Linked DNA regions of Homo sapiens: region 1 is linked to region 2. The links come from fine-mapping of genetic effects on gene expression. A gene starts in region 2. The other region holds a variant in brackets. All regions are shown on one strand. Distances are between the middles of the regions.

Region 1 (11,738 bases), 25 kb after region 2:
AGAACTGTGGTGTGTTTTCCATTACTGCAGTCTCCTGGTTCCCACTGTCACTTCCTGTCGATGGTTCTCACATGGGTTTCAGGAGATGACTTAACTACCTTTCCTACCAGGACAGCTGACTAAGTCCTTTTCTCCTGCTACTGAAACCACCAAAGGGGGTGTTGGGCCTTCTCCCTCCTCCCTTTCATTTTACTGAATCTGAAAAGACCCAGAGAATGCAGAGAAACAGAAGGTGGGACGGATGGGCTGCCCACCAGAGAGCTGGAAAGAGACAAGGGGAGGAGTGTGAGATTTTTTTTTTTTTTTTTTTTCCCCGAGATGGAGTCTCGCTCTGTCACCCAGGCTAGAGTGTAGTGGTGCAATCTCGGCTCACTGCAACCTCTGCCTCCCATGTTCAAGCAATTCTCCCTCGGCTTCCTGAGTAGCTGGGATTACAGGCGCCTGCCTGCGCGCCTGGCTAATTTTTGTATTTTTAGTAGAGACAGTATTTTGCTGTGTTGGCCAGGCTGGTCTCGAACTCCGACCTCAGGTGATCCTCCCGCCTCAGCCCCCCAAAGTGCTGGGGTTACAGGCATGAGCCACCATCCCCGGCCGTGAGATGGTTTTTAAGGGACAAGTCTTTCTGGAAGAGAGTGAGTGACTAGGTACAAGGAAGAGGATGAGTGAGGAACGTTTGGTGACAACCAACAAACAAGTATTGATCACTTCAGCATCAGGCGGGGCATGGGAAACTCAGAAGGTGTTAGTCCCTTCCAGACAGCACTTTCAGGTAGGGAGACAAAATGGACTCATACAGCTTAGTGAACAGGATGCGTGGGTGCATCCGTCAGGGTCCAATTGAGACCACAGCAGTTGTTAACTGGTAGTGGAGAAAGGAAAGGGCAGGAGTGGACACTGAGGCATCACAATGTAGGGATTGCAGGGTGCAGTCCTCACTCCTGGGACCTGAGAACAGTGGGAAGACATTGGGATTATTAAAGTGGAGATTTGGCCGGGCGCGGTGGCTCACACCTGTAATCTCAGCTCTTTGGGAGGCCAAGGCAGGCGGATCACCTGAGGTCAGGAGTTCGAAACCAGCCTGACTAACGTGGAGAAACCCCATCTCTACTAAAAAATACAAAATTAGCCGGACCAGCTACTCGGGAGGCTGAGGCAGGAGAATCACTTGAACCTGAGAGGTGGAGGTTGTGGTGAGCCGAGAGCACGCCATTGCACTCCAGCCTGGGCAACAAGAGCAAAACTCCGCCTCAAAAAAATAAAAGGGCTGGGCGCAGTGGCTCACGCCTGTAATCCCAGCACTTTGGGACGCCGAGGCGAGCGGATCACGAGGTCAGGAGATCTAGACTATCCTGGCCAACATGGTGAAACCCCGTCTCTACTAAAAATATAAAAATTAGCTGGGCATGGTGGCAGGTGCCTGTAATCCCAGCTACTCTACTCGGGAGGCTGAGGCAGGAGAATGGCTTGAACCCGGGAGGCAGAGGTTGCAATGAGCAGAGATCACGCCACTGCACTCCAACCTGGTGACAGAGCGAGACTCAGTCTCAAAAAAAAAAAAAAAAAAAAAAGATTCACCTGCACTTTGGGAGGCCCAAGCTGGGAGGATTGCTTGAGCCCAGGAGTGTGAGATCAGCCTGGGCATCGTGGTGAGACTCTGTCTCTATGTAAAATTAAATCTAAAAATAAAATAAGGCCAAGTGTGGTGGCTCACACCTGTAATCCCAGCACTTTGGGAGGCCGAGGCAGGCAGATCACTTGAAGTCAGATGTTTGAGACCAGCCTGGCCAACATGGTGAAACCCTGTTTCTACTAAAAATACAAAAATTAGCCGGGCATGGTGGCACATGCTTGTAATCCCAGCTACTTGGGTGGCTGAGGCACGAGAATTGCTTGAACCCGGGAGGTGGAGGTTGCAGTGGGCTGAGATCACACCACTGCACTCCAACCTGGGTGACAGAGATTGTGTCTCAAAATAAAATGGAGATTCAAGAGGAGGGGACCAATGGAGAAGGACGTGCTGGCCAGTGGCAGCTGCTGCCTCTCAGAGGGTAGAGAAACCACCAAGAAACCAGCACCACTCCTGGAATCAGCTATGCCAGCACACAGCAGTGTTCTGTGGTTTGGCTCACAACAGGAAATACATCGTCCCTCCTTTTTTTCTCTCGTCTTGCAGTCTCCCTCAGCCTGTCCTACCAGGTTGAGCTAGGAGGGGGAAAATGTGGCTCGGAGCAGAGTTCAGAGGGTGGGTTTGGGGCTGAGAGACAACAATGTGGTGACTGGCTCAGTCCACCTGTTTGGTTCCCCTCACATGTACATGCTTCTGCACATACTTGAACTTGCATAGGATGGTGAAAAATGCTGGGTGTGGTGGCTCATGCCTATAATCCCAGCACTTTGGGAGGCCAAGGCAGGTGGATCACTTGAGGTCAGGAGTTTGAGACCAGCCTGGCCAACATGATGAAACCCCGTCTCTACTAAAAATACAAAGAATTAGGCTGGGCGCGGTGGCTCACGCCTGTAATCCCAGCACTTTGGGAGGCCAAGGCGGGTGGATCACGAGGTCAGGAGATGGAGACCATCCTGGCTAACACGGTGAAACCCTGTCTCTACTAAAAATACAAAAAATTAGCTGGGCGTAGTGGTGGGCACCTGTAGTCCCAGCTACTCGGGAGGCTGAGGCAGGGGAATGGCGTGAACTCGGGAGGTGGAGCTTGCAGTGAGCCAAGATCGCGCCACTGCACTCCAGCCTGGGCGACAGAGCGAGACTCCGTCTCAAAAAAAAAAAAAAAAAAAAATTAGCTATGCGTGGTGGCGGGTGCCTGTAATCCCAGGTACTCTGGAGGCTGAGGCAGGAAAATCGCTTGAACTCAGGAGACAGAGGTTGCAGTAAGCCGAGATCATGCCATTGCGCTCCATCCTGGGCAACAAGAGCGAAACTCCGACTCGGAAAAAAAGAAAAAAAAACGTGGTGAAAAAACAACTTCATGCCTCCATGGAACAAGATACAACTACCCTTCTACAAGCAAAAATAATCTCTCCTTCCCTCCAAAATAAACACGAAGTGCCAAGTCATTGTATCCCTGTCTCAGAGACAGTCACTATTTCTGAGCTATGTTAATTGCTCCTAATTGCCAGGCTCACACCTGGAATCCCAGTACTTTGGGAAGCTGAAGTGGGAGGACTGCTTGAGGCCAGGAGTTCAAGACCAGGATGGGCAACATAGGCCCCATCTATAAAATTTTTTTTTTAATTAGCCAGGCGTGGTGACACATGCCTGTAGTTCCAGCTACTCAGGAGGCTGAGGTGGGAGGATCACTTGAGCCAAGGATTTCAAAGCTGCAGTGAGCTGTGCCCTCTAGCCTGAGAGACAGAGTGAGACACTGTCTCTCTTTTTTTTTTTTTGAGACGGAGTTTCACTCTTGTTGCCCAGGCTGGAGTGCAATGGTATCATCTAGGCTCACTGCAACCTCCGCCTCCCAGGTTCAAGCGATTCTCCTGCCTCAGCCTCCCGAGTAGCTGGGATTACAGGCGTGTGCCACCACATCCAGCTAATTTTTGTATTTTTAGTAGAGACAATGTTTTACCATGTTGGCCAGGATGGTTTGATCTCCTGACCTCGTGATCCACCCGGCTCGGCCTCCCAAAGTGCTGGGATTACAGGCGTGAGCCACTATGCCCAGCCAGAACCTGTCTCTTAAAAAAAAAAAAAAAAATTGGCCAGTTACCATGGCCCACACCTGTAATCCCAGCACTTTGGGAGGCTGAGGTGAGAGGATTGCTTGAGGCCAGGAGTTCAAGACCATCTTGGGCAACATAGCAAGACCTGTCTCTACAAAAGAAAAAAATTTTTGTTAATTACTCCTAATTCGGTTGGTGTAATACACAACACCTAGTTGGTGACGGGCAGCTCAGGCCACAGGGTCACTTGATGTCCCATGAACTAGGTGTTCCATCTCGGTCAGGGCCCAGTGAAATAGTTACTTGCAAAAGAGGACATGGACCTGCCCAGAACCCTGGAGTTCTGCATGGCCACAGTCCAGTTGGGACTTGCAGGAGGCTCTGATACAGCATCTGTACTGGCAGGAGATAATTTCAGTATCACTGGATCTCCCCAGCCATAAAGCCCAGGTGGCAGCACAGAGCTAAATTTTTAATAAGAGTCATACCACACAGAAAGATTTTCATCAGTAAAGCTTTCCCCTGGAGTAAACTGTTACTCCATGAAGCCAGATTAATTCCTTGATCAATTTTCTATACAGGGCAATTAAATTGCTTCTAAGTTTTATATTTTCATTTTAATTTTTACTTAAATACTTTCATTAAGATCATGGTTTTCCTAGAATCTTTCTGAACTTACTCTGATTCAGAGGACTGCCCAATTAAAAAAAAAAAAAGACTGGGGCCGGGCGTGGTGGCTCACGCCTGTAATCCCAGCACTTTGGGAAGGCAAGGTGGGCAGATCACCTGAGGTCAGGAGTTCGAGACAAGCCCAGCCAATATGGTGAAACCCCGTCTCTACTAAAATACAAAAATGAGCCAGGCATGGCGGCAGGTGCCTGTAATTCCAGCTACTCAGGAGGCAGAGGCAGGAGAATCACTTGAACCCGGGAGGTGGAGGTTGTAGTGAGCCAAGATCACGCCACTGCACTCCAACCTGGGCAACAGAGTGAGACTCTGTCTCAAAAACAAATAAATAAATAAAAATAAAATATCGGCCAGATGTGGTAGCTCATTTGTGTAATCCCAGCCCTTTGGGAGGCCGGGGCAGGTGGATCGTATTCGAGGCTGCAGGGAGCTATGATTGTGCCACTGTACTCCAGCCTGGGCAACAGAGTGAGAAACCCTGTCTCAAAAAAAGAAAAAAATATATGCTTGGCCAGGAGAGGTGGCTCATACCTATAAACCCAGGTACTTGGGAGGCTGAGGTGAAAGGATTGCTTGAGCCTGGAAGGTCAAGGCTTGCTTGCTTGCTTGCTTGCTTGCCTGCCTGCCTGCCT[G/T]CCTGCCTTCCTTCTTTCTTTCTTTCGAGGCTGAGGTAAAAGGATTGCTTGAGCCTGGGTGGTTGAGGCCTTTCTTTCTTTCTTTCTTTCTTTCTTTCTTTCTTTCTTTCTTCTTTCTTCCTTCCTTTCTTTCTTTCTGTTTCTTTCTTTCTTTCTTTCTCTTTCTTTCTTTCTCTCTTTCTTTCTTTCCTTCTCTCTCTTTCTCTCTTTTTTTTTTGATGGAGTCTTGCTCTGTTGCCCAGGCTGGAGTGCAGTGGCACCATCTTGGCCCATTGCAACCTCCACCTCCAAGGTTCAAGCGATTCCCCTGCCTCAGCCTCCCGAGGTAGCTGGGATTACAAGCGCCCGCCACCACACCCGGCTAATTTTTGTATTTTTAGTAGAGACGGGTTTTTGCCATGTGGGCCAGGCTGGTCTCAAACTCCTGACCTTAGGTGATCCACCTGCCTCGGCTTCCCAAAGTGCTGGGATTACAGGCCTGAGCCACTGTGCCCAGCCGTGTGAGGGTATTTTCAACCGTCCGTCTGTCAGCTCTTAGGACACATTCCCAGAAGAATAGAAAGATAGTTTATGTAGAAATACATGTGAAGTGTCATTAGTGGAAAAAAAATTTTTTTAAACAAAGTATGTAACCATATTTAGCTGTATAAGAGAAATTTATTTGTGCACACAGTATAAAGTTAATTTTTCTTTTTTTTTGAGACAGAGTTTCACACTTGTTGCCCAGGCTGGAGTGCAATGGCACTATCTCGGCTCACTGCAACCTCCACATCCTGGGTTCAAGTGATTCTCCTGCCTCAGCCTCCTGAGTACCTTGGATACAGACATGTGCCACCATGCCTGCCTAATTTTGTATTTTTAGTAGAGACAGGGTTTCACCATGTTGGTCAGGCTGGTCTCGAACACCTAACCTCATGTGATCGCCCACCTTGGCCTCCCAACGTGCTGGGATTACAGGCCTGAGCCATCGCATCCAGCCTAAAGTTAATTTTTTCAAGGATTTAAATACATCTTTTGTAAGGTTTTTAAAATAAAGGCAGATTGAGTCAAGTTTATTGAAACTTTACATGGAGGGAAAGAATATGCTAATTTGACATTTTAGAGAAGTTTAAATGCAAGCGTTTGTTGTCCCAGCTTAGAGATTGGTGGGTGAGGTCTGTGTGTGTCATTTTCATGTTCCAAAACGGTGAGCTTTATCTTATGTTATTTTTGGTGGATGTTGACTTAGTTCATGAATGTTGTCACTTCTAAATGTGGACAGTTGGGCTGGAAGATAACACAGCCTCTTCCGGAGCCTAGTAATCCCTGCCAAGCCCCCATCAGTCATATTTCTAAATGAAGACATTATTTTGTTCACATTTCCTTGGAAGAAAATTAAGCAGCTATTAAAGTCATGGTCACCAGGGTCATGTTGTGGCATAAAAAGTACTAGTGAGTTAAATAAGGATTCAGAATTGTATGTATGAAACCTCTATCAACATATCAAAATCCAAGCGCATCACTTTAGGTTGTGTGACTCTCCCCCTTTCCTCCATTTTCCTTTCTTTTTTTTTTGAGATGGAGTTTCTCTCTTGTCGCCCAATCTGGAGTGTAATGGCACGACCTCAACTCATTGCAACCTCTGCCTCCTGGGTTCAAGCAATTCTCCTGCCTCAACTTCCCAAGTAGCTGGGATTACAGGCACCTGCCACTTCGCCCAGCTAATTTTTGTATTTTTTGTAGAGACGGGGTTTCACCATGTTGGCCAGGCTAATTTTGAACTCCTGACCTCAGGTGATCTGCCTGCCTCAGCCTCCCAAAGTGCTGGGATTACAGGCGTGAGCACTGGTGCCAGGTCGCCTCCATTTTCAAATTGTGTTTAAGGCTGGGAGCCGTGATTCACACCCGTAATCCCAGCATTTTGGAAGGCCGAGGCAGGCAGATCATTCGAGGCCAGGAGTTCAAGACGAGTCTGGCCAACATGGTGAAACCCCGTCTCTACTAAAATATACCAAAAAAAATAAAATTAGCCAGACGTGGTGCCGCACGCTTGTAATCACAGCTACTCAAGTAGCTGAGGCATGAGAATCAAGAATCGCTTGATCCGGGAGGCAGAGGTTGAAGTGAGCCAAGACTGCACCACTGCACTCCAGCCTGGGCAACAGAGTGAGACTCTGTCTCAAAAAAAAAAAAACCAAATTGTGTTTAATATACTGTATATATATATATATACATATTTATTTATTTATTTATTTATTTATTTATTTATTTATTTATTTTGAGTCTCTGGATGGCAGTAACTCAGTCTCAGCTCACTGTAACCTCCACCTGTCAGGTTCAAGCAATCCTCCTGCCTCAGCCTCCCAATTAGCTGGGATTACAAGCATGCACCACCACGCCCGGCCTATATATATATATACTTTTTTTTTTTTGAGATGGAGTCTTGCTCTGTCGCCCAGGCTGGTGTGCAATGGGGTGATCTTGGCTCACTGCAACCTCTGCCTCCCAGGTTCAAGCTATTCTCCTGCCTCAGCCTCCTGAGTACCTGGGATTACAGGCGCGCGCCACCACACCCAGCTAATTTTTGTATTTTTAGTAGAGACGGGGTTTCACCGTGTTGGCCAGGATGGTCTCGATCTCCTGACCTCAAGTGATCTGCCCCCCTGGGCCTCTCAAAGTGCTGGGATTTACAGGCGTGAGCCACCTCACCCGGCTGACACTTTTTTCATTGCAAGATTTTGTAGCCTCAGCTACTCAGGAGGCTGAGGTGGGAAGATGGCTTAAGCTGGGAATATGGCTTCAGCCAGGGAGGCAGACAGAGGTTGCAGTGAGCTGAGATTGCACCACTGTGCTCCAGCCTGGGGGACAAAGCGAGACACTGCCTTAAAAAAAAAAAAAAGACTTTGTCAGTGAAGGAAGGACTACATTGATTTACAACCTGGCATGAGCTTCTTATGTTGCTAAGAGCCAGCAGTGGTTCATGGACAGCACTTGGAATTGCACTGTTGTGTAATATAACAATGAAAATCCCCGTTGCTGGGATAGGTGGAGACTAAAGGCTTATGTGGGACTTGGGCCTGGCAGCACTGCCGCAGGGCGCCCACACGGCTGTATACCTGCTATGCCCCTTCTGGCCCTGCTGCCTCCTGAGCTCTCCAAGGCCCTTTCCTGTGGCCTGAAACCCTATGATCATCACTGTTAGGAGCAAATAACCTGATTCCTTCGAATTAGAGACAGGCTCTCAGGGAGTGGGAGCAGCCCTCCAAGCAGAGGGCTAGGCCGTGGGCCATCCAGCACTGCACCCTCATTCTCATTAAGCTGAGCAGAAGAATGAATGAGGGATGTCTCTTCTGGGCTCGGACATGGGCCTGTTTGCAGTAGGGCTTCTCTGAGGCCACCTCTCTGAATCAGGGGCCCCTCCTCCTCTCCCCCAACACCTTACCCCAGGTCGAGGTTCAAAAGGTCCAGGACACTGTGGGGAAGCAGATGCTGATCATCGCTGCTGACGGCCAAAAGCACCAGGGTCGGGTGGCCTTTCTCTCAGTAAGGTTGGCCCACCCCACCCCAGGCCCAGGCTTCCCCAGTGCCCTGCATCAGGCTGCAGGGACCTCCCAGGACTCTGAGTGGATGGCATGGGACCAGGCAGTCAGGGACAGGATGCCTAGGTGGGCTCCGGGCTGTGACAGTGGTGGTGCTGGAGTGGAGCTCACGGACGCCTCTCTACACACCCCACAACCTCCAGGAACTGATCCAGACAATGCGAGGTGAGGCGAACACCCACTTCTCGGAGATCATCAGGAGGTCAAACAGCTGCAGATGCAGATCTTGGATTTCGTGGAGAAAGAGGAAGCAGCCGCCCTGGGGATGCTGAGCAGCTCCATCCAGCAGAGCCACAACCGGCTCCTGAAGCTGGAAGGAGACAGCGTCTGGCTCCACACCCTGCTCATCAACCAGAGTGACCAGCAACGTCTGCAGGCAAGGTCCCAGCCCTCTGCCTCTGGCTCAGGCCCCATCGCAGCTTCCACTCTCCCTCCACCCACAAACACATCAGATCTCGGTCGGGAGTGGTGGCTCATGCCTGTAATCCCAGCATTGTGAGAGGCCGAGGCAGGCGGATCACCTGAGGTCAGGAGTTGGAGACCAGCCTGACCAACATGGTGAAATCCCACCTCTACTAAAAATACAAAAATTAGCCAGGCTTGGTGGCAGGCGCCTGTAATCCCATCTACTCGGGAGGCTGAGGCAGGAGAATCACTTGAACCTGGGAGACGGAGGTTGCAGTGAGCTGAGATCATGCATTGCACTCCAGCCTGGGCAACAAGAGCACAACTCCATCTCAAAAAAAAAAAACCACAAAACACACACACACACACACACACAGCCGGGTGCGGTGGCTCACGCCTGTAATCCCAGCACTTTGGGAGGCCGAGGCGGACAGATCACCCGAGGTTGGCAGTTCGAGACCACCCTGACCAAACATGGAGAAACCCCGTCTCTACTAAAAATACAAAAATTAGCTGGGTGTGGTGGCACATGCCTGTAATCCTGACTGCTCAGGAGGCTGAGGCAGGAGAATTGCTTGAACCCAGGAGGCGGAGGTTGCGGTGAGCCGGAGATTGCGCCACTGCACTCCAGCCTAGGCAACAAGAGCGAAACTCCGTCTCAAAAACACACACACACACACACACACACACACACACACACACAGATCAGCCTTTAGGGTGCATCACTGTGTCCATTCCCCTGCCTCAGGGAGCCTCCCCATTCCAGGTCTTCTGTCTTGAGCTTGCACGAACACCCTTGGCTTTCTCCACTTCAGAGCTCAGCCTTACCCTAACTTTCCTGCCTTGGTTTTCCTGGAACACATGGGATTCCAGGCATCTAGCACAGCCTAAGTTTCTCCAGACTTCCCTGGATCATGGCTGAGAGTGAGACCAGAACAATCTGTATAGCCTGGATTGAAATCCCTTTTCCAGCCCAGGAGGTGGAGGTTGCAGTGACCCAAGACTGCACCATTGCACTCCAGCCTGGGCAACAAACTAAGACTCTGTCTCAAAAAAAGAAAAAAAAAAAGAATCGTGAAATCCCTTTTCCTTCCCCAATCCTGGCCTGGCCCTGAAGCCTGGACTGATGCTGCTGTAAGTAGCGGGTGGGGCCAAGCAGCAGCCTTTTCTGGACGGTGCCTGGAGTTGCCCAAACCCTGTGCTTGGGAACTCCAGCTTCCTTTAAGCTGCCATCACACCCTGGGCAGACATCTAGGGCAACTGCTCACTTTGTCCCCTGTGCACAATGGGAAGCATTTGGCAATGGCTTTTACTAAGCAGTTCAAGGCACAACAAAAATCCTCCCATCATTTTCTGAAAATCCCCTTTGCCTAATGCACACTAGGCCACAGTGGCCAAGCCCTTGGCAAAGCCCTGACCTCTGATGTCCAAATAGCTAGGAGGAGGGAAAGGAGATGCCCAGGTTTGGAAAGGGGAAGCTTCTGCTCCACCGGCCCATGGTTCTGGAGGCCTCTGGGCCTGTGGCATCGGCCTAGGTCCTGGCTAACAGGTGGTACCTCTGGCCCCTCCCTGCATCCAGGGGTTCCTCCGACTGAAGCAGTTCTCAGCCTGCATGGAACCCCTGATGGGCATCAACTGTGAGGAAACGCAGAGCTTCCCCCAGCTGCCAGAGACCCTGGCTGAGCTCTGGATGCGGCTGCTGGACATGGGCCTCAGCTTCTTTAACCAGCTCTCAAAGTTCTGGGATTACAGGATTACAGGCGTGAGCCACCGCGCCTGGCCTTTTTTTTTTTTTTTTTTTTTTGAGACAGACTCTCGCTCTGTCTCCCAGGCTGGAGTGGAATGGCGCCATCTCGGCTCACTGCAACCTCCCCCTCCTGGGTACAAGTGATTCTCCTGCCTCAGCCTCCCGAGTAGCTGGGACTACAGGTGCCTGCCACCATGTCTTGCCAATTTTTTTGTATTTTTATTAGAGATGGAGTTTCACCATGTTGGTCAGGCTGGTCTTGAATTCATGACCTCAAGTGATCCGTCCGCCTTGGCCTCCCAAAGTGCTGGGATTACAGGCGTGAGCCACCTCGCTGGGCCCCCACTCAGTCTTGTGTGCCTGAACAAATACAAAGGGAGACGATGTTAGGGTCTGATGGCGGGGGAGGAGGGCGACCTGGGGCAGCACCCACTCACCCTCCAGGCTGTGTCTGAGCAGCGGGCTGAGTTTGGGGACAGGAGCGTGGGTGGAAGCATCCCCTGACTTGTATGCAAATGCCTTGCAAGCCAGCGTCCTGCCCTGGAGGCTGCTGACCCTGCTTCCCCACCTCCACCCGCCAGGTTACTGCAACCTGAACTTTGACCCCGCCACCGCCGGCGACGAGCTGTTCCAGCTCTAGGAGACCCGCTGGGTGCTGAACCTGGGGATCCTCCTGGAGCCCCTGACAGGGGGCGGCCCCTTCCCGGGCTTCAAGCAGTGACCGCAGATGCTGTGCTCGCGCGGCCTGTCCGAGGGCCGCCACTAGGACGGGAGGTGGAGGTGTCCAACTCGTGGGTGTGCCTGGGCGTCACCTACCCCCGCAGCTCCCCGCTCGGCGGCCGCCCGAGCCGCAGCGTGGTCTACCTGCTGGGCCGCAACCCCTTCTCGTGGTGCCTGGAGTGGGACGACAACGCGCAGACCGTGCTGCACGGCGCCTACCACCGCACGCTGGGCGTGGCGCTCGACTGCGACGCCGGCGGCTTGTCCTTCTACGGCCTGGCGGGTGGCGCC
Region 2 (11,738 bases):
CAACATGGCGAAACCCCGTCTCTACCAAAAATACAAAAAATTAGCCAGGCATGGTGGTGCTGTGGTCCCAGTTACTCGGGGGGATGAGGTGGGAGGAAGGCTTGAGCCCGGGAGAAAGAGGTTGCAGTGAGCTGAGATGGCGCCACTGCACTCCAACCTGAGTGACAGAGTGAGACTCCAACTCAAAAAAAAAAAAAAAAGAAGAGCAGAGAGGTGGATTGCCTGAGCCCAGAGTTTGAGACCAGCCTGAGCAATATGACAAAAACCTGTCTCTACCAAAAAAAAAAAAAAAACAAAACGAAAATTTATCAGGTGTGGTGGTGGCATGCACCTGTAGTCCCAGCTACTCAGGAGGCTAAGACAGAAGGATGGCTTGAGCTTGGGAGGCAGAGGCTGCAGTAAGCTGAGATTGCGCCACTGCACTCCACCCTGGGTGACAGAGCAAAACTCCGTCTCAAAAGAAAAAGGACAGGAAAAGAGTAGAAAAAAAGTCAGTTTGTTCCAAAGGGAGACAGGAAGGAAGCTAAAAGGAACCCAGGAGGTGGGCAAACATTTAACTTGAAAGCCCCCTGGGGCGTGGTGGCGCATGCCTGGCTGAGGCACGTGGATTGCTTGAGCCCAAGAGTTCTGGGCTGTAGCGCGTTATGCCGATCGGGTGTCTTCACCAAGTTCAGCATCAATATGGTGACCTCCCAGGAGCGGGGGACCACCAGGTTGCCTAAGAAGGGGTGAACCGGCCCAGGTCAGAAACAGAGCAGGTCAAAACTCCTGTGCTGATCAGAAAGCCCTCTGGCTCCCAGATTAAGGCTACACTCTACTGCTGAATGAACAGAGCCTAAATTCCTGCACCTATTTACAGTTCAATCGACCACAAGGCCTTTGGCCATACGCATCCTTCCTAAGCTTCCTTAGGGATCTGGCTGTCATGCTGTGTATGTAATTATCCCTGTTCCTGCTCCCTACCCACAGGCATGTTACAAGCTCAGTGCTTTAGAGGTGTGAAGTCTCACCTTCTTCTCAAAGTCATCCACCAAGCCAGCCTTGGCCACATTGGCCTTGTAGTAAGCCCAGTCGATAGCTGGTGGATTCTCAGGTAAAGCAGCCAACCTGCCCACAAGGAAAGGCAAAAGTTAGGATTGTTCATAAGCAGTAGAAAATTCACATGGTAATTTTCCTATCCCTTCTTCCTATGGCCTGGAGGGTCACCACACTTTCCTCTCCTAAGATCATCATGAAAATGCAAGGATTTCTTTATATGTTGTCATAAGGGCATCAAGAATTCATATGTAATTCCTTAATACTGTTTTGTTTCTAGATTCAGTGGCAAGTATGGGGTTCCCTCTCAGAAACATACTGACCTGGAGGTGAGGGTCTCATTCCAGGATTTCAGGGAACTAGCAATGGCCTTTTGGTTCTGGGGTATGATCTCTGCAAAAGCTACCCAGTCAATGGTTTTTAGAGCAAGTTTTCGCCCAGCCATTTTGGGATCCTGAAAAATAAGTCAAATAAAAACAAGGCTTTTTTATGAGGTGAATTTTCAGTTGGGAAAAATGATAAATAACAAAATAAGAGCTCTTAGAGAGAATCCTTTAAATCTTAGAAACATGCAAGTCTTCACAAGAATCACTTGAACCCAGGAGGTGGAGGTTGCAGTGAGTCGAGACTGCATCACTGCACTCCAGCCTGGGAGACACAGCAAGACTCCAACTCAAAAAAAAAGAAAAAAAGACAGTGTAGCTTTTCAAATTCAAGGTAATTCAAGGTGTGCGGCCAGGCGCAGTGGGCTCACGCCTGTAATCCCAGCACTTTGGGAGGCCAAGACGGTTGGATCACCTGAGGTCAGGAGTTCGAGACCAGCATGGCCAACATGGCAAAACCCCATCTCTATTAAAAATACAATAATTAGCCAGCCGTGGTGGCCCGCGCCATAATCCCAGCTACTCCAGAGGCTGAGGCATAAGAATCACTTGAACCCAGGAGGCAGAGGTTGTAATGAGCTGAGATGGCATCAGTGCACCCTAGCCTGGGCAACACAGCAAGAGTCCGTCTCAAAAAGAAAAGGAAAGGACAGTGTAGCTTTTCAAATTCAAAGTGTGCAATGTGGCATACAAATACATTCTCTCCCAACTCCTATTTAGCCTTAAAAGCCCAGCTCTCTTGGCCGGGCGCAGTGGCTCATTTCTGTAATCCCAGCACTTTGGGAGGCTGAGGTGGGTGGATCACTTGAGGTCAGGAGTTCAAGACCAGCCTGAGCAATAGGGTGAAACCCTGCCTCTACTAAAAAATACAAAAATTAGCCGGGCGTGATGGCATGCACCTGTAGTCCCAGGTACTCAAGAGGCTTAGACAGGACAATCACTTGAACCTGGGCGGCGGAGGTTGCAGTGAGCTGAGATAGCGCCATTGCACTCCAGCCTGGACACAGAGTGAGACTCTGTCTCAAAAAAAAAAAAAAAAACAAACCCCAGCTCTCTTTATCCCCTCCATGTGCCTCTGGAAAAATTACTAAAAATAACACTCTTATTGCATAAAAGTTAATAAAGACATTTCCACCCAGATTGTGTTTTATTCACTGATTCTCCAGTAGACAGAAACTGACACACACCTAAGTTTCAACAAGCCTTAAATAGAGCACTCTCTAGGCTAAAATTTACTTATGTGTACAATGGGCATTATCAGTCCTGCTTGCCCCAGAGGGCTGCTAAAAGTGTCACATGAAATTGTGCACAGCAACTTGCTCCAGAGTTTTACAAACTTAAAAGGGCTATCCCCTTCCAACTAGATTGGTAATACACCTGCACCTTCTTATTCACATCGGATTATACCCTAGCAGCACCAGCACACGTTGTGCACTTTTTTTTTTTTTTTTTTTGAGATGGAGTTTCACTCTGTCCCCCGGGCTGGAGTGCAGTGGCATCATCTTGGCTCACTGCAACCTCCACCTCCCAGGCTCAAGCGATTCTCCTGCCTCAGCCTCCGGAGTAGCTGGGATTACAGGCACCCACCACCACACCCAGCTAATTTTTGTATTTTTTTTTTTTTTTTTGAGACGGAGTCTCGCTCTGTCGCCCAGGCCGGACTGCGGACTGCAGTGGCGCAATCTCGGCTCACTGCAAACTCCGCTTCCCGGGTTCACGCCATTCTCCTGCCTCAGCCTCCCGAGTAGCTGGGACTACAGGCGCCCGCCACCGCGCCCGGCTAATTTTTTGTATTTTTAGTAGAGACGGGGTTTCACCTTGTTAGCCAGGATGGTCTCGATCTCCTGACCTCATGATCCACCCGCCTCGGCCTCCCAAAGTGCTGGGATTATAGGCGTGAGCCACCGCGCCCGGCCCTAATTTTTGTATTTTTAGTAGAGACAGGGTTTCTCCACGTTGGCCAGGATGGGCTGAAACTCCAGACCTCAGGTGATCCACCCACCTCAGCCTTGCAAAGTGCTGGAATTACAGGCATGAGCCACCGCGCCCGGCCTGCATTTTAAGAGGTATTCAACACATGTGAAAATGTGAGAAAAATACAGAAAACGACTACAGCCACTTAAAAAAAAAGTCAGAATATAGGAAAATAGTCCTCTTTAAGTAAGATCAGGGTCAGATATTAAAAGACTGCAAAGTCAAAAATCTCTATAAGCTTGGAGTGGAATGCAAGGGAGGCGGAAGCAGTCTTTCTCAGGATCTTCAAGAAAGTTGTCAAACACCTGTCCTGTCCTTCCTTTCTTTCTCAGGACAGCCTGTTTCCTGTTGTGGAGGGGAGGTGTTAAGGCAATTGGCATGTGATTTTAAAGTTACCAGGGAACCAAGCACCCTTACAGACTTTCCCAAACATCAGTGTATCGGGGAACTTGCCCCGATAGTCACATAGGTTCTTTTCTATTTTCCTAAGCGTCGACTGGCTTGACAGAGTACAAAAGAGAGAAATTTTAAAGCTGGGCGTCCGGGGGAGACATCACACGTTGGTAGGATCCGTGATGCCCCACAAGCCACAAAAACCAGCAAGTTTTTATTAGGGAGTTTCAAAAGGGGAGGGAGTATACGAATAGGTGTGGGTGACAGACATCAAGTACTTAACAGGGTAATAGAATATCACAAGGCAAGTGGAGGCAGGGTGAGATCACAAGACCACAGGACCAGAGCGAAATTAAAATTGCTAATGAAGTTTTGGGCACCATTGTCATTGATAACATCTTATCAGGAGACAGGGTTTTCAGATCAACCGGTCTGACCAAAATTTATTAGGTGGGAATTTCCTTTTCCTAATAAGCCTGGGATCGCTATGGGAGACTGGAGTTTATTTCACCCCTGCAGTCTCAACCATAAGAGACAGGTACGCCCCAGGGGGGCCAGTTCAGAGACCTACCCCTAGGTGCGCATTCTCTTTCTCAGGGATATCCCATGCTGAGAAAAAGAATTCAGCGATATTTCTCCCATTTGCTTTTGAAGGAAGAGAAATATGGCTCTGTTCTGCCCGGCTCACCGGCGGTCAGAGTTTAAGGTTCTCTCTTGTTCCCTGAACAATTGCTGTTATCCTGTTCTTTTTTCAGGGTGCCCACATTTCATATTGCTCAAACACACATGCTGTACAATTTTTGTAGTTAACACAATTATTACAGGGTCCTGGAACGATATACATCCTCAACTGACAGGATTAAGAGATTAAAGACAAGACAGGCATAGGAAATCAGAAGAGTATTGACTGGGGAAGTGATAAGTGTCCATGAAATCTCTACAATTTATGTTTAGAGATTGCAGTAAAGACAGGCATAAGAAATTACAAAAGTATTAATTTGGGGAACTAATAAATGTCCATAAAATCTTCACAATCCACGTTCTTCTGCCATGGTTTCAGCCGGTCTCTCTGTTTGGGGTCCCTGATTTCCCGCAACATCAGTGGAAAATGGAAGTCACAAATAACTTTGTGTGTGTGTGTGAGTGAGACGGAGTCTCGCACTGTCGCCTGGGCTGGAGTGTAGTGGCGTGGTCTCGGCTCACTGCAACCTCCGCCTCCCGGGTTCAAGCGATTCTCCTGCCTCAGCCTCCCGAGCAGCTGGGATTATAGGGGCCTTCCACCACGCCCAGCTAATTTTTTGTATTTTTAGTAGAGGCGGGGTTTCACTACGTTGGCCAGGCTGGTCTCGAACTCCTGACCTCGCGATTCGCCCGCCTTGGCCTCCTAAAATTCTGGGATTACAGGCGTGAGCCACCGCGCCCGGCGAAATTTTTTTTAATTCTTAAAAATCTATTGCTTAATCCCCAGCGCCTAGAACAGATCATGCGCATAGGAGGTGCTCAATGAATCTTTCTTGAATGAGTAACCGAACTCTGCACCCGAGGAGCCCTGAACGCTCTATACGTTCGAATCCTGGAAGCTGCCGAAGGGGAAGGGCGCAGCCCCGCAGCCAGCTGAGCGTCCCTCGGCAGGTTAACACTGTCTGCGTAATGTTTCCCCAGTCCCCCCACCAAACTATTGAAGTCTGCCGCGCTGGGAGCGGACTGCACGAGACACGGCTTGTGGCAGCGCCTACATCAGCGGCGCCTGGGACACAGCCGGGCCCCCCTGACCCCGCGCGCCAAGGAGGGCTGAGGAAGGGATCGCGGGGCGAGGAGCGGCAGCTACACAAGGGACACTCTGCCAGCGGGGCAAGCCGAGGGCCCAGCGTCCTTGACGGGGGCGTGACAAGGGTCGGCGTGAGGTTTGGAGAGGGCAGAGCAGAGGAGCCCTCCAGGGATCGGATCCAATGCCCCAAGCCCCACTCACCTTCACCGACCCTGGCTGCCCACGGTCCTCCGCAGCAAGTAACGGAAGTGGGTCACGGGAAGATCTTTCCTCAGCCAACCCCAAAGCCAAGGGGGTGGGCCTTGCTTCGCAGATCAGCCAATAGAGATGAGGGCTGGTTCCGGAAGTATCTTCCCGGGGGCGGGCACAGCGCCTCCCCCGCGCGGGTCCCCGGGCGCTGGTTGGGGGCGCTCCCGTCCCTCTCCCCTCTGCCCCACCCCCGCCGATGGGCCGGCCCGGCTCTCCCTGCCGAGAAATGGGCCGGCCCGGCTGCGCGCGGGCAGCAGCGGTGGCGGCGGCGGTCCAAGATGGCGGAACTGCAGCTGGACCCGGCGATGGCGGGGCTGGGAGGGGGCGGCGGGAGTGGGGTGGGCGACGGGGGTGGCCCAGTCCGCGGGCCCCCCAGCCCACGCCCGGCTGGCCCCACGCCCCGCGGGCACGGCCGCCCGGCTGCCGCCGTCGCGCAGCCGCTGGAGCCGGGTCCCGGACCACCCGAGCGGGCAGGGGGCGGCGGCGCGGCCCGCTGGGTCAGGCTGAACGTGGGAGGCACCTACTTCGTGACCACCAGACAGACCTTAGGCCGGGAGCCCAAGTCATTTCTCTGCCGCCTCTGCTGCCAGGAGGACCCGGAGCTGGACTCAGACAAGGTGTGCCCCGCCCTCGGGCGCGCCCCCGGGCCTTCGAACCCCCTGGTTTCTCGTAGATCGGTCCCCAGAGTCCTGAGACACGCTCCTCACAGGCAGCCCCCTCAGGCCGGGACCCCATCCTCCCCCTCCCTCCCACACTACTCGCAGGGGCCTCAGAGGGACCTCCCACTCCCCTTCTTCCATGCTGAGGCATACTCTGGCTTTCTCCCCGACCCCGCCCTTCGTTCTCTGAGACTCCTTCCCACACTGCGCCCACCTGCACCCACGAGAACGCACTCCACACCCCTTCTCCATATTCTCTGCCCCTGACATCCCACTGAGATCTGCATGAGTTTTCCCTGGCTCCTCTTCAGTCCCCCCACTGCCGGTGCCAGATGCATCCAGAACTGGGTCAGGGTTAGCTCAGGCATCCTTGTAGCTTTCTCAGACTCCCTCTCGGACCCCTCTGCCAAGTTGGGCTTCCACAGCTGCAGGAAGCGCTCCTTGTGATATCACACTGCTTTTCTATAGTCCTGGTCGCAGAACTTTTATCTGTTAACAGTCACTGGTTTAGGTCCATATTTAGATCAAATGCGTTTTTTGGAAAGAGGTTACTGTTTGCCGCTGCAAATCTAGGCTAAGACAGAAGGAAAATGAAAATTTTCCCGGGAAAATTTTGGGCAGGATGCATGGCTGCTAACCAAAGGGTTGAGAGGTGACAAGACACTTAAACCATTTCCAGTTTGAACTGTGTCAATTTCTTTTTAACTTTACGTATTCACCTTTAAGTTCTCAACTTAAAGGCACTGACCATAACTCACACCATCTTATATCCCATATAGCACTCAGCTGGTGACCTCAAAACAGAGCTGGAGTTGCGTAAACATTTGTTGTTTTCGTTTATTCCTCTTCTCTAAGAAATCTCAGATTGATGGAAACCTATCCTGCCCTAACTTTAAAGAGATTTCAAAACCCTTGCTTATAAAGGAATTATTTTTATCTACTCTATATCCTCCTTGTGGTAATAGAAGCCAGTTTCTTCTTGTTCCTTTTACTGTAAAGATGAGTAGGATTAAAGCTGCTCAGAGCCAAGTCCTGGCAGTACCGAGCTTCCTCTGGGCACAGAGCTGGGGTGTGTGAGATTACAGCTGGCAGTGCAAACTCCCACTGATGTTGGCCTTGAGCTCAGGAGCATTGCCAACTACACAGAGGTTTTCTTGGAATTAGGAATGCAGTTCAGAGGCAGTGGAAAAGTCAGAATGTCCATCTCAAGCAAAGATTTCAGTTACACAGCTACGGCATTTTCTCCCTTTCTTAATAACAAACACGCTACAGAAGAATGTTTGTCACTGTAATTATTGTCCAGGCAAAGATTGCAAATTCCAGCCAGTAAGTAAACGCCTAAATGAGTATGACTGTCTGTAACACCCTACCTAAGATGATCTTAATGTACAAGATACATAAAGCTATAGCTTTCTTACCAATAGTTTGTGACAAATGTGTAACAAAATTTGCCATCACTAAAGTCTTTTTTAGCTGATGGAATGAATTGTTGTCTTGGGGCGCTGACAAAGATGGTGAAATCCTGCCCTGCCTTTGTTTAAAATACTCCTCAAAGGTCCACAATGATACCCTTGTGTTTGGTTGGCAGGATGAGACAGGAGCCTATCTGATTGACAGGGACCCCACCTACTTTGGTCCTATCCTCAACTACCTCCGCCACGGGAAACTCATCATCACTAAGGAGTTGGCAGAAGAAGGTAAGCGCACTGTTTGCATTGGGGATTTTCAAAATGCAAGTAGAATCTTTAAAGTTGTTTTACAGATTTCAATTTTGTTTGACATTTTCATCAGGCGCATGTGCAGGTATAGTTTCAGGTTTATGAAACAGAGCAGAAACTACCAGTCTTGTCTGAGGGAGTCATGATTAAGGAAGCCTCCTTAGGCTTTGTTCAGCTTCCTGGGTGAGAAGGAAGATAGGTAGCTCCGCTTTGCAGATAACTTCAGGAGTTCTTTCCGAATCTCCAGAATTGTCACGATCCTTTTTTTACATTTGTTTGTGTGCTAGCAGTGAGTGTCTGTAGTCTGAAGAAGCAAGACATCTCTGACATTCAATTATTTATAGTTTTAATTTTGGTTTGAACTCACAGTTGTACAAAAATAATAAAGGCTTGGCCTCATTTCTTTTAAGACTCTGGCCTCATGCTTCCCTGTAAATGTTTGCAGCTGACCTAATTCATTCTCTAGTTCATTGTCAGGTGTATCATTACTTGCCTCATCTTTGTGGTTTGTAGGGCATTGGGACTATAAGTGGGTCTAGTCCACTTTCTACAAGGCTTGGCATGGTCCCACTGAAGGCATTCAGTTGTAAAGGGGACTGTCCCTAAATCCAGGGCACCCTGATCTGGGAGCTTTGGCTCTGAGTAAGAAAGCTTGTAATGGCTGTACTAGTTAATGAAGTGACTGTGAAACAACTCTGTTTCAGCTAGTAGAAAGAGGAATTGCTCTCTCTCTCTTTTTTTAAATGTCCCTTTTTAAACAATATTTCAAACGCATACAGAAGTAATGGGAATAGTACATACAGTGAATTCCTTGCATCCACTATCCAGCTTCAACAATTACCAACTCATGGGTGATCTTAATCTTATTTATTTTTCTTTTTTAATTTTTGTAAGTACCTAGTAGGTGTATATATTTATGGGGTACATGAGATTTTTCTTTTTTTTTTCTTCGCTCAGGCTGGAGTGCACTGGCACAATCTTGACTCACTGCAACCTCAGCCTCCTGGGTTCAAGCGATTCTCCTGCCTCAGCCTCCCAAGTAGCTGGGATTACAGGCGTGCACCACCATGCTTGACTAATTTTTTGTATTTTTAGTAGAGACAGGGTTTCACCATGTTGACCAGGCTGGTCTTGAACTCCTAACCTCAAGTGATCCACCTGCCTCAGCCTCCCAGAGTGCTGGGATTACAGGCCTGAGCCTCCGCGCCCGACCTGAGATGTTTGGATATAGGCATGCAGTGTGAAATAAGCACATCATGGAGAATGGGGTATCCATCCCCTCAAGCATTTATCCTTTGTGATACAAAAATTCAATTACCCTCTTTTAGTTAAGTATCTTTTCTAATGCCTTTAATTAAAAAAACTTTATTTTGAAGTAATTTAAAACTTCAAAATAAGCAAGAAAAGAGCAAGAATAACACAGAGAACTCCCTATATCCCAGATTAACCAATTTTCAATGTTATTTTTGTCATATTTGGGGTATGGGGAGATCTTTTTGTTGTTTTTTTAAGAGTCAGAGTCTATCTTATCTTGCCCAGGCTGGTCTCAAATGTCTGGCCTCACATGCTCCTCCTGCCTCAGCCTCCTGAGTAGCTGCGATTATAGGCATGAGCCATCATGCCCAGCTTTTTTTTTTTTTTTGAGACGGAGTCTTGCTCTGTTGCCCAGGCTGGAGTGCAGTGGCGCAATCTCGGCTCACTGCAAGCTCCACCTCCCAGGTTCACGTCATTCTCCTGCCTCAGCCTCCCGAGTAGCTGGGACTATAGGCGCCCACCACCACACCCAGTTAATTTTTTGTATTTTTAGTAGAGACAGGGTTTCACCATATTAGCCAGGATGGTCTCATCTCGATCTCCTGACCTTGTGATCTGCCTGCCTCAGCCTCCCAAAGTACTGGGATTACAGACATGAGCCACCGCGCCCGACCTTTTTTTTTTTTTTTTTTTTTTTTGGCGACAGAGTCTCCCTCTGTTGCCCAGGCTGGAGTGCAATGGCACTATCACAGCTCACTGCGACATCCACCTCCCGGGTTCAAGCGATTTTCCTGCCTCAGCCTCCTGAGTACCTGGGATTACAGGTGCATGCCACCACGCCTGGCTAATTTTTTTATTTTTGGTAGAGACGGGGGTTTCACCATGTTGGTCAGGCTGGTCTTGAACTCCTGACCTCGTGATCCACCCGCCTTGGCCTCCCGAAATGCTGCGATTACAGGCGTGAGCCACCATGCCCGACCTTTTTTTTTTTTAAATCATATTTGCATTGTCCTTCATTCTCTATTTCCCCCTCCCTACCCCCATCCTCTTGCCTCTCCCACCACAGTTATTTCTGAACTATTTGAGAATAGATTGCAGATTTCACCCCTTAATATTTGTATATATTTCCCAAGAACAAGGATACTGTTTTATGTAACCACAGACAGTACAGTTATCAAACTCAGGAAATTTAATACTGATGCTTTTATCTACAGCTTATATTGCAGTTTTGTCAGTTGTCCTAATAATGGCCTTTATAGCAAATTTATTCCTATAGGATCACACGTCTCATAGTTGCCCTAAGGCCTTTGAGTTCATTTAGCATGCAAGTCTTTAAATGGTTGCCTTTTATATTGTTCAAATGATTAGCATCCTATTAAGTTTGGCCCACATAAATTTGTACACACACCTCCACCCCCACCCCCAGTCCTTTTGAGGGCAGATTGGACAAAAATATCAAGTTCAGGAGGTGTCCAACATGACTAGTTCCAGGAACTAAGTGACATATGGGAAAAGTGTCCTGCAGCTAATGGGCAGGTGCCAGGTAGGGAAAGGAGGGTTGAAATGGAGTGAGCAGAACATACCCTGGCGTTTGACTAATTTATGTTGGAGAAAAGGTCATGGGTTTACCGAAAATAGCAAAGAGATATTTCCTAGCAGAAGGAGAGAGATTGGATTTGCATTTAAATAATGCAGTTTTTAGGCCAGGAGCTGTGGCTCATGCCTGTAATCCCAACACTTGGAAGGCCAAGGTGGGCGGATCACTTGAGGTTAGGAGTTTGAGACCAGCCTGGCCAACATGGCAAAACCCCGTCTCTGCGAAAAATACAAAAATTGGCTGGGTGCGGTGGCTTTACGCCTGTAATCCCAGAACTTTGGGAGGCCAAGGCAGATGGATCACCTGAGGTCAGGAGTTCAAGACCAGCCTGACCAACATGATGAAACCCTGTCTCTACTAAAAATACAAAAAATTAGCCAGGCGTGGTGGCAAGCGCCTGTAATCCCAGCTACTTGGAAGGCTGAGGCAGCAGAATCTCTTGAACCCAGCAGGCGGAGTTTGCAGTGAGCCAAGATCATGCCATTGCACTCCAACCTGGGCAACAAGAATGAAACTCTGTTTCGGGCGGGGGGAAAAAATAGAAACAGCCGGGTGTGGTGGTATGTGCCTGTAGTCCCAGCTACTTGGGAGACTGAGGCAAGAGAATCATTTGAACGCAGGAGGCGGAGGTTGCCGTGAGCCAAGATCGCACCACTGAACTCCAGCCTGGGCGACAGAGTAAGACTCCGTCTCAAAAAATAAGTAAAT

Evidence for each region. PIP is the estimated chance that this variant, and not a neighbour inherited with it, causes the effect.
Region 1: its variant is fine-mapped to the expression of ATP5PD in whole blood (INTERVAL, PIP above 0.99).

What each region holds. Positions count from the first base shown.
Region 1 is chr17:75,065,886-75,077,623 of GRCh38, forward strand. KCTD2 (potassium channel tetramerization domain containing 2) reads left to right here. Exons shown (of 6, transcript NM_015353.3): 6 at 1. It also overlaps the pseudogene TRIM80P. Among named protein-coding and RNA genes, the nearest start is that of SLC16A5, 16 kb to the right of the region's middle. RefSeq lists an enhancer at 1,947-2,016. The variant G/T (reference allele first, on the strand shown) is at 4,998.
Region 2 is chr17:75,041,171-75,052,908 of GRCh38, forward strand. ATP5PD (ATP synthase peripheral stalk subunit d) reads right to left here and starts at 5,799. Exons shown (of 6, transcript NM_006356.3): 1 at 5,755-5,799; 2 at 1,359-1,489; 3 at 1,011-1,107. The coding sequence starts at 1,480. It overlaps KCTD2 (potassium channel tetramerization domain containing 2), which reads left to right and starts at 6,055. Exons shown (of 6, transcript NM_015353.3): 1 at 6,055-6,419; 2 at 8,050-8,158. The coding sequence starts at 6,081. It also overlaps the pseudogene RN7SL573P. RefSeq lists enhancers at 97-667, 5,266-5,335, 5,274-5,859, 5,744-6,038 and a silencer at 5,736-6,165.